Homo sapiens: one gene and its partners. The protein of the gene in region 2 purifies or fractionates together with the protein of the main gene of each other region. This does not show direct contact. Each region holds a gene or a part of one and is shown on either strand. Other genes may lie near its edges.

What was found.
Region 1: the proteins of DPCD (region 2) and RAB18 purify together in Homo sapiens (co-immunoprecipitation; one large-scale study listed by IntAct). This does not show direct contact.
Region 3: the proteins of DPCD (region 2) and KSR2 purify together in Homo sapiens (co-immunoprecipitation; one large-scale study listed by IntAct). This does not show direct contact.

Annotation. Positions count from the first base shown.
Region 1 is NC_000010.11:27,510,675-27,514,333, forward strand, and holds part of RAB18 (ras-related protein Rab-18), read left to right. Parts: intron 1-3,659. UniProt on the Homo sapiens protein: The small GTPases Rab are key regulators of intracellular membrane trafficking, from the formation of transport vesicles to their fusion with membranes.
Region 2 is NC_000010.11:101,605,178-101,607,757, forward strand, and holds part of DPCD (protein DPCD), read left to right. Parts: coding exon of another isoform or gene 1-35; intron 36-2,580. UniProt on the Homo sapiens protein: May play a role in the formation or function of ciliated cells.
Region 3 is NC_000012.12:117,759,390-117,763,048, forward strand, and holds part of KSR2 (kinase suppressor of Ras 2), read right to left. Parts: intron 2,136-3,659; coding exon 1,622-2,135; intron 1-1,621. UniProt on the Homo sapiens protein: Location-regulated scaffold connecting MEK to RAF. Has very low protein kinase activity and can phosphorylate MAP2K1 at several Ser and Thr residues with very low efficiency (in vitro).

The DNA of each region.
Region 1 (3,659 bases), about 74 Mb from region 2:
TCACTTAACTTACTAACTTCATCTGTAAATTGGGAGGTTTTGTTAAAATTTCATGATCTGATGAGGAGAATATAGTAAAGATGATCCTAGCATTATTGTTAGGGAAAATAAAGAGTTTCTGTTAACTGGCTTTATTTGTTTTCATTGATTGTATGTCTATTTTTAAAATTTTATTGTGAAACAATTTCAGACTCAAAGATTTGTAAAAATAGCACAAATAATTCTTATGTATCCTATTAAATTACTCCAGATGTTAATGTTTGTCACATTTGCTTTATCATTCTCTCTCTACACACAGTATTCTTTTTTAAAAAAATGAGAGTAGATTGTAGACATGATGTCTTCAACGTCTGCATACTTTAATGTGTATTTCTTAAATGAACATAGATACATTTTATTGTCTATACACAGATTTTATCAGTTGTCCCATTAATGTCCCATATAGCAAAAGACAAATAATTGTTTCGGGTCCAGGATCATACACTGATTTTAGTTATTTCTCTTTAGCCTCTTTTATTTCATTTAATTAATGAATTAATTTATTTTCGAGACAGAGTCTAGCTCTGTCGCTCAGGCTGAGTGCAGTGGCACCAACTCAGCTCAGTGCAACCTCCACTTTTCAGGTTCAAGTGATCCTCCTGCCTCAGCCACCCAAGTAGCTGGGACTACAGGCACATGCCACTGCGCCTGGCTAATTTTTTTTTGTATTTTTGATAGAGACGGGGTTTACCATGTTGGCCAGGCTGGTCTTGAGCTCCTGACCTCAAGTGATCTACCCACCTCGGCCTCCCAAAGTACTGGGATTGCAGGTGTGAGCCACCGCGTCGAGCCTCTTCAGCCTCTTTTAATCAGCAATTCTTCAGTCTTTATTTGCCTTTTCAGGGCCTTGACATTTTTGAAGAGTAAATAATTATTTTGTAGAATGTCTCTCAATTTGTGTATGTCCAGTATGTCCTTAACGGTTAGATTCAGGTTATGCAGTTTTGGCAGCAATTCCACAGAAGTGTTTTTCAGAACATAGTGTCAGTGAAGTTATTATTTTTCCCTTCATAACTAATATATTTCTTGTAGAGAGATACATTGAGACTGTATAGGTATCCTCCTTCTTACACTTTTTGCCCTCCTGTTGTAGCATCCATTGATAATTCTTGCCTGTGACAAGTGATAAGGACAGTATATGATCTTTTCATTCCAACTGTGATGGTTATCAAATGGGGATTTTTTTAAAATGCCATCACTCTGTCTATGTATCTTGTTTGGAATTCTGTAAGTAAGAGCTCTTTTTTTTTCTTTTTTTGTGAGGCAGTGTCTCACTGTGTTGCCCAGGCTGGCCTGAGACTCCTGGGCTCAAGTGATCCTCCTGCCTCAGCCTCCCAAGTAGCTGGAACTACAGCCATGTACCACCATGCCCAGCTCAGGAGGAGCTCATGTTTGTTTGTTTCTTTTTCTTCATATGAACTCATGGTGCCTCTAAATTTTCAATAAATTAGGCATTACTTAGCTTTTGCATGATATTAAGATTTACAGATTTACTCTTATTTGTGTCATAGGAAAGGGAATCATTTAAAACACGAATTCAAAATCCATTGTAATTTGGCTTTGTTGTATTATAATAATAATTATTATTATTTAATTTTATTTATTTATTTTTAGACACAGTCTTGCTCTGTTGCCCAGGCTGGAGTGAAGTGGCACAACCTTGGCTCACTGCAGCCTCCACCTCCCCATTCAAGTGATTCTGGTGCCTCAGCCTCCTGTGTAGCTGGGACTACAGGCATGCACCACCACACCTGGCTAATTTTTGTATTTTTAGTAGAGATGGGTTTTGCTATGTTGGCCAGTCTGGTCTTGAACTCCTGGCCTCAAGTGATCCACCCACCTTGGGCCTCCCAAAGTGTTGAGATTATAGGTGTGAGCCACTGTGCCCATACTGGTGTATTATTTACTCCTATAAAAAATTACTTAGTAGTAAAACCTTATTTTGGTCAGAACCTGCCTGAGTACGTATTGGTATTGGCTAGCCAGGAGGAGAGCAGTAGCAACTGGCAGGAAAATAAACTTGCCTAAAGTTAAAATTTTACTGAAGGAATGAACATACATATAATATTAACTGTCTTCATTACAAACCCAAATGGAATTTGGGGACTTGTGGCATGACAAATCGTGGGTTGTCTTTATTACTAAAAAGGCTTTGTCTTCTGCAAAGACAAATACTAAGATTATAGTATGCTGGTGAAAATATATGTAATTTGTTCCCCAAATAGGCCCTAGATCTTGAATATGTTGAACAAAATATCTTTTACATTGAAGCATCAGATTACTTTCAGCCTTAGGTAATAACATATATATATATATATATTTTTTTTTTTTTTTTGGAGACAAGAGTCTCGCTGTGTTGCCCAGGCCGGAGTGCAGTGGTGCATGATCTCAGCTCACTGCAATCTCCGCCTCCCAGGTTCAAGTGATTCTTCTGCCTCAGCCTCCCAAGAAGCTGGGATTGCAGGTGTGTGCCACCATGCCTTGCTAATTTTTATGTTTTTAGTAGAGATGGGGTTTTACTATATTGGCCAGGCTGGTCTTGAACTCCTGACCTCAAGTGATCCACCCGCCTCAGCCTCCCAAAGTGCTAGGATTACAGGTGTGAGCCACCACGCCCAGCCCACACATGAGTTTTAAACATAAAAACAATTACTTAATGGCCTTGTGAAAATTAGTGTTTTATGAAAATTGGTATTTTACCCCACAGTAAAATAGTAGTAAGGAAAGTGTATTGTTACCTTTTAGTAACTTAGTGAGACACTTAAGTTTCTGTCTTGCATAAAATACTCTTTTAAGATAATTGTTGGATTTGGGATTTGCAGATGGTACTATAAAGTTAGCATTCTTCTTTCTTGGCAATTAGCTAAAAACAACAAAGAGAGGGAAAAACTGACACACAAACCCAGCATTCCACTAAACTAGAAGACAGTTAAAAACCCCAAGCCACAAAATAGGTGGAAATGTTGCCAGGAGCAGTGGCCATCAGGCTGGCTGCATGTGGGAAGAAGTAGGTAGGATGCCGTGGCTGTGGAGCTCAGAGACAACAAGAAACACCCATGAAACTGCAAGGCCCCCCTGAGGTATAAAACCTAAACCCCTTGTTTACAAAAGTGAAGTGGGTTTCTTCAGCTCAAGGCAGGAGCTTTCCTGCACCTGGTTTAATTCTAAGAAGTCGGGGAAATGAAGCCAAACAAGGAGTCACATAAACAAGCCATTTTTGCAGGAAGTAATATGTGTCTATCTCTATAGCAGTTGGGGAGGAGATGACTGCATTGTGAAAAACCTCCAGACTGCCTGTCTGCATTGGCTGTTGAGAAGTAAAATGCTAAACTGTCTCTTAGGTAAATCTCTGAATCACGAAAAAGTTGTCAGTCCAGAACTGGAGGCACTCTGGCCTTCTGCATAAACCTCCTACAAATATCAGGTTCTGGACAACCAGCACTTCTTCAGAGATGAATAATCAAAAGGAATTCATTAAGCTTGACTGCCACAAATGTTTGGAAATAAAAAAGGAAGAAAGAAACAGAAAAACAAAGGACAGATGAAGAACAGTAACCTAAAATATTGCCATAAAGAAGATGAATATTGTGATCAAACATTTTGCCATGAGTTTAGAAAAC
Region 2 (2,580 bases):
TGCGGTGTGCAGGTGTGCATGGCACCCCCTCTGAGGTATGTGAGGCATGACCCAAGTGATTGTCCACAGCAGCCCTGCTCCTGCCTTCAGCCTCCAGAGTCTCTCTCCCTCTGAGGGCCTGGCCTCTGGTGCCCTTTTGGGTTGAAAGGCTGGATTGGGGAGGGGATACAGTAGAGAGTGGTGGGAGGCAATAGATCATTACTGAAATAGTCAAAATGGAGGAGTCGTCTGTCAAACAGGGAGAAGACAGGTACAGAGTTGGCCTGTTCTGGGCCCTTTGACATTGACTTCAAGTTCATCTAGTGCAGCTCTTTTATTCGAAGAAGGAATGTGGAAACTGAGGCCCAGAAATTAAGTGACCTGTCCGGGGTCACAAGGCAGGGCCAGGAGTTCTGCTACAAGCCTTTACTTCCACATACATCTTTTGAAGACTTTTGACATTCAGAAAGGAAGGCCACTGATGTGTTGGAGAGAGTACCCAGGGGACCCGCAGAGTGTTCGGACCCCAGGGGAGACAACCTGTTCATTGTTGAACATCCCCACCTCCCACCTCAATATCTGCCCCATCATTGGACAAATGCAAATAATCTAGACTATGGCGGGCTATTACTTTGTGGTGAGAATGTGGAGACATGGAGGTGTCAGGAGATTTGGGGAATTCTCACTTTAATACGGGCTTCTCTGTTTACCAGCTTTGTGAGTTGGGCAAGATATCTAACTTTTCTGGGCCTCAGTTTCCTTTTGTTTAAAAGTGGATAATAGAAGTAACCAACCTGAGAGAGTTGTTTTGACAATTAAATGTGTTTAGAACCTGGCACAGAATAAGCTCTTAAAATGTCATCTTTCATTGTATGGCTGAAATAGAACATTGAAGGGAGGTGGGAATGGGGGAGAGCGGGGCATCTGCAGGAAGCCAGGGAACTATCCTGCTGTAAGGGTTCATCTTTTAGCAGAAACAAAACAAGGTCTGATCAGCAGGGATATGGCCTTGTTCCTTTTTTTGAGATTGAGTCTGGCTCTGTTGCCCAGGCTGGAGTGCAGTGGCACGATCTTGGCTCACTGCAACCTCCGCCCCCTGGGTTCAAGTGACTCTCCTGCCTCAGCCTCCCAAGTAGCTAGGACTACAGGTGCTGCTACCACGCCTGGCTAAGTTTTGTGCTTTTAGTAGAGACAGGGTTTCACCATGTTGGCCAGGCTGGTCTTGAACTCCTGGCCTCAAGTGATCTGCCTACCTCGGCCTCCCAAAATGCTGGGATTACAGAAGTGAGCCACTGCATCTGGAGGCCTTGTTTCTTCTTCATCCTTTTCTTTTAATTTTTTGTAGAGACAGGGTCTCGCTATGTTGCCCAGGCTGGTCTTGAACTCCTGGCCTCAAGTGATCCTCCCACCTCAGCCTCCCAAAGTGCTGGGATTACAGGCATGAGTCACCAGGCCCGCCCTCTTCTTCATCCTTAAATCCCCAGCTCACAGCTCAAGGTCTGGGACACAGTTGATGCCCAATAAATGTTTGCTGCCTACCTACAGCTGCCTGAGGCTGAACGTTATGACCCTTCCAGAAGCACAGTGGGTCTCTCTCTTGTCCAGGTGCTGGTGAGAAAGTCAAGTACAGTACCTATCATGGAAAAACCCTATGTCTGGGGGAATGGGTGTGAGAAGGGGGTGGGCTTCCCCAGGAGGAGAAAAGGCAGATGCTCCCTACTCCCTTGAGCCTATCGGGAGCTTCTAAGAAGTTGGTTAACCTCGACCAATAAACTAAATCTATTACAAGAGACTCAAAACCAAGCTGAGCCTCCACCTGCTCTGCCTCCATTCCTCTTGCCTGGTGGTAGGAGTAGTTCAAGGAAAGCAGGTGCAAGCTATGCACCTAAAGTTCCCTCTGATCCTGTCCTTGCTGTTGTGGCCAAGCCCTGGGATTCATTTTCCGGTCCCACTGCCCCAGCCTGGGGGAATGGTTCTGCTGGGCTGCTTCCCTCCTGGTTCTGCTTTTTGTGTATATTTGCAGGGAAGATGTTAACACTTCCTAACAAGTCTTTGTGTTCATCTAATCTCTGCTGTTTAACCTTTGACTCTCCCCTATTATCAGTGTCTGCCACCTTTGCTGGCCAGACCAAAGGCCCCAGGAAGAGCCCTCAGCCTGAGCTGGCTAGGAAGAGGATGAGGCAGGCATTCCATCCCCGGTTTGCAGGCAGATGGATCGCCTTTCCCTGGGGCAGAGCTTTGGAAAATAAAGCAACTTGCAATGCCATTAGGATCCCCCAGCCCCCACTCCTTTTGAACTGTCAGCCTTTAAGTAAACATTCTTTTCCTGCCATGGGTCCCAGTACCTTGGTGGGGAGTGGGGAACCTGGGAGGAGAGGGGCCCCGAGAGCCTCTGTTGAACGGAGGGATTTGGGCAGGGAGGACGGGGGCAGAAGTGCTGCATTGATGTCAACTCTCTGAGTCCCCAGGGCATAGGGGCTTTTGAAGTGGACTCAGGGTAGCTGTCACCACAAGGACCAGGCCCCTCTGAAGTACTAAAAGCCCCATCCTCCCCAGGCCTCTCACTTGAGTTTGTTTGTACCTGCCTGAGGTGTTTCCCTT
Region 3 (3,659 bases), on a different chromosome or scaffold from region 2:
AAGCCTAAAGTATTTACTATCTGCCCCTGTACAGAAAAAGTGTGCCAACCCTTCACTTACAGAATCCTGCCTTTTTAAAATGGTGATAAAATATACATAATATAAAATTTACCATCTTAACCATTTTGAAGTGTACAGTTCAATGGTACTAATTACATTTGCATTGTTGTACAACCATCACCACCATCCATCTCCAGAATGTTTTCATCATCCCAAATGCAAAGTCTATATCCAATAAATAACAACTCCCCATTCTCCCTCCCCTCAGCCCTGGCATCCACCGTTCTACTTTCTGCCTCTATAAATTGTCTACTCTAGGTATCTCATATTGGTGGAATTATACAGTATTTGTCATTATGTGTCTGGCATATTTTACTCTTAGCATGCTGTCTTCAAGGTTCACTCATGTTGTAGCATATATCAGAAGTTCCTCCCAGGTCGGGCATGATGGCTCATGCCTGTAATCCCAGCACTTTGGGAGGCCAAGGCGGGCAGATCATTTGAGGTCAGAAGTTCAAGACCAGTCTGGTCAACATGGTGAAACCCTATCTCTACAAAAACTACAAAAAATTAGCCAGGCGTGGTGGCACAGGCCTGTAGTCCCAGCTACTTGGGAGGCTGAGGCAGGAGAATCACTTGAACCTGGGAGGCAGAGGTTGCAGTGAGCTGACATCCCACCACTGCTCCAGCCTGGGCAACAGAGCTAGACTCCGTCTCAAAAAAAAAGAAGTTTCTTCCTTTTTAAGCCTGAATAATATTGCATTGTATAGATAGACCACACTGTGTTTACTCATTTGTCTACTGATGGACACAGGTTGTTTCTACTTTTTGGCTACTGTGAATAGCACAGCAACCTGCCTAATCCTCGAGTCTCACCCTACATCACACACCTGCTCTCTCCCCCAAAGGGGTCCTCTGTCAATTTCCCCAACGTGTCCTGCTTCCTACCACCTTCAACTGAGATGAGCCGTGGATATAAAATACACATTCAATTTCAAAGACTTTGTATTTTAAAAAATGCAAAATATCTCTGTAATGATATTTTACATTGATTCTTTGTTAAGATATTATAATTTTGATATATTGGGTTGAATGATGTATTATGATCATTAATATCACTTGTTCCTTTTCATTCTTTTTAATGTGACTACTAGAAAGTTGAAGGTTAATATATGCCTCATATCCTATTTCTAGGAGCGGCACTAGGCTAGACTCTGCAGGGGTTGGCAAACGTTTTCAGTAAAAAGCCAGATGGTAAATACTTTCAGCTTTGTGGGCTATTCTCACTCTGCCATTGTCACACAAAAGCAGCCATAGGCAACACATAAAGGAATGATCATGGGCGTGTTCCAATACCTTTTATTTACAAAATCAGGCCGGGTATCAGATTTAGCCCCTAGGCCATAGGATATTAATCGTATTTTTTAAACGGCCAATTCTGGGAAATTCTGTTCTATTCATTTGCTCAGAACCCTCTGTGAAAAGCCATTTTTCATTCAACCAGAGTCTGGAACGCAAGTCTGTTCCCGGTTTCCTTGACCTGGGCAGTTCCTGGGACCAAGGGGCAGCCCCTCGCAGGCCGGGTTTCGACCGCCCCAGGGCACCCACCGATCGCACTCACTTGGGCGTGTGGGCCTCGTCCACGCGGTGCCCCAGCTGGAACTCGTGGGATTTGCTCCGATGCAGCGCGGTGAATCCCGGGATCAAGTGTATCAGTTTTCGGGAGGAGGGCGGTGGGGTCCCCGGGGGCTTCAGCTTGTTCTTCTTCCTCATGGGCGGCGTGCCCGGCGGGGTCACGGTGGTGACGATGTTGGGGGTGCGCGGCGGGGTGCGGACCGCGTGCCGCTGCCGGGGCGATGGGGGCAGGGAACGGTGGCCCGACTCCAGTGGCGGGGGCGGGCACAAGCCCGGGTAGGCGTCCACGGTAAGCCTGTCCACGTGGGTGTACACAGGGGCCCCGGGAGTGGGGCTGGTGTGACAATAGTGCTGGACGCACTTGGACGGGACCCTGGGGCTCTGGGAGAGATGGGTGCGGATCCACGGGGTGGGCTCCGGGGGGCACACGGGATTGTTCTCCTTCCCCGTCTCTGTCGTGGGCCACTGGATGGTCCAGTCTTGTTTGGAAAGGTTGCCTCCTGAGTTGGAACAGAAGAGCAGAGACAATGGGTAAGCCATGAGAAAGCCAGGTGAGTTACACCATACACACCATTACATCATACACACATTACACCACGTGCCCATTACATCATGTGCATGTTACACTATATACCTGTTACATCGTATGCATGTTATCTCATATGCAAATTATATCTTATGCACATTATACCATGTGCCCATTACATCATATGCATGTTACACTATATACCTGTTACATCGTATGCATGTTATATCATATGCACATCATATCATATGCATGTTACACTATATATCTGTTATGTTGTATGCATGTTATATGCACATATCATATGCACATTACACCATATGCATGTCACATTATATGTGCATTACATCATATGCATGCTATTTCATATGCCCATTACCTCTTACAGACATTCTATCAAATGCATGTTACATCATACCCACATTACATCATAAGTACATTTACATAAAGCCAACCATCTCTACTTGGCTCCTCCAAAAAGACAATAAAATCCCCTTGTTGACCCTGTTACCCTATTCTCCATTCAACAGCCTTGCCTTCCACTGCCCCATAGCTGGGAAGACCCCACAGCCCAAATGCTCAGAAAAGCAAAGAAGTTAATTCTCACTTTTTGAACTTCCCAAGGTCCCAGTTCTGGTAGTTTCAAAGTGATTTAAAGGACTTTAAAGGATAACTTTTCCCTTACATGGAAATTTTAATACCTAACCCTCATGTGAGATACACAAATTCCAAGGAAGTCAAGTTCATCCTTAGTCCCTCCCTGACCACTTCCTCAGCCACCGCATACTTCCTCCAGATCTGTGTCGCCATGTTCTTATTCATGCATTTGTCCAGTAAACATCCTGTGAGTGCCAACTATGCCCTTTGCTTGGAAAAGACACAAAAGCAACACAGATGAGACCCTGGTCCCCTGGACTTACATTCTGCCAAAGCAGCCATGATAGACAAGAAAACATGCTCACAGAAGGATTTCACATGGTTATTGGTGCTGGGAGGGAAATAAACAGAATGACGTGATAAAAAGAATATGGGCAGCTGGGCACGGAGGCTCACACCTGTAGTTCCAGCAATTGGGAGGCCGAGATGGGCAGATTACTTGAGGTCACGAGTTTGAGACCAGCCTGGCCAACATGGTGAAACTCCATCTCTACTAAAAATACAAAAAAATTAGCTAGGTGTGGTGGCGTGTGCCTGTAATCCCAGCTACTCAGAAGGCTGAGGCAATAAGAATCGCTTGAACCCAGGAGGCAGAGGTTGCAGTGAGCTGAGATCGCACCATTGCACTCCAGCCTGGGCAACAAGAGTGAAACTCAGTCTCAAAAAAAAAAAAACCTTTTTTTTATTTTATTATTATTATACTTTAAGTTTTAGGGTACATGTGCACAATGTGCAGGTTAGTTACATATGCATACATGTGCCATGTTGGTGTGCTGCACTCATTAACTCGTCATTTAACATTAGGTATATCTCCTAATGCTATCCCTCCCCTCTCCCCCGA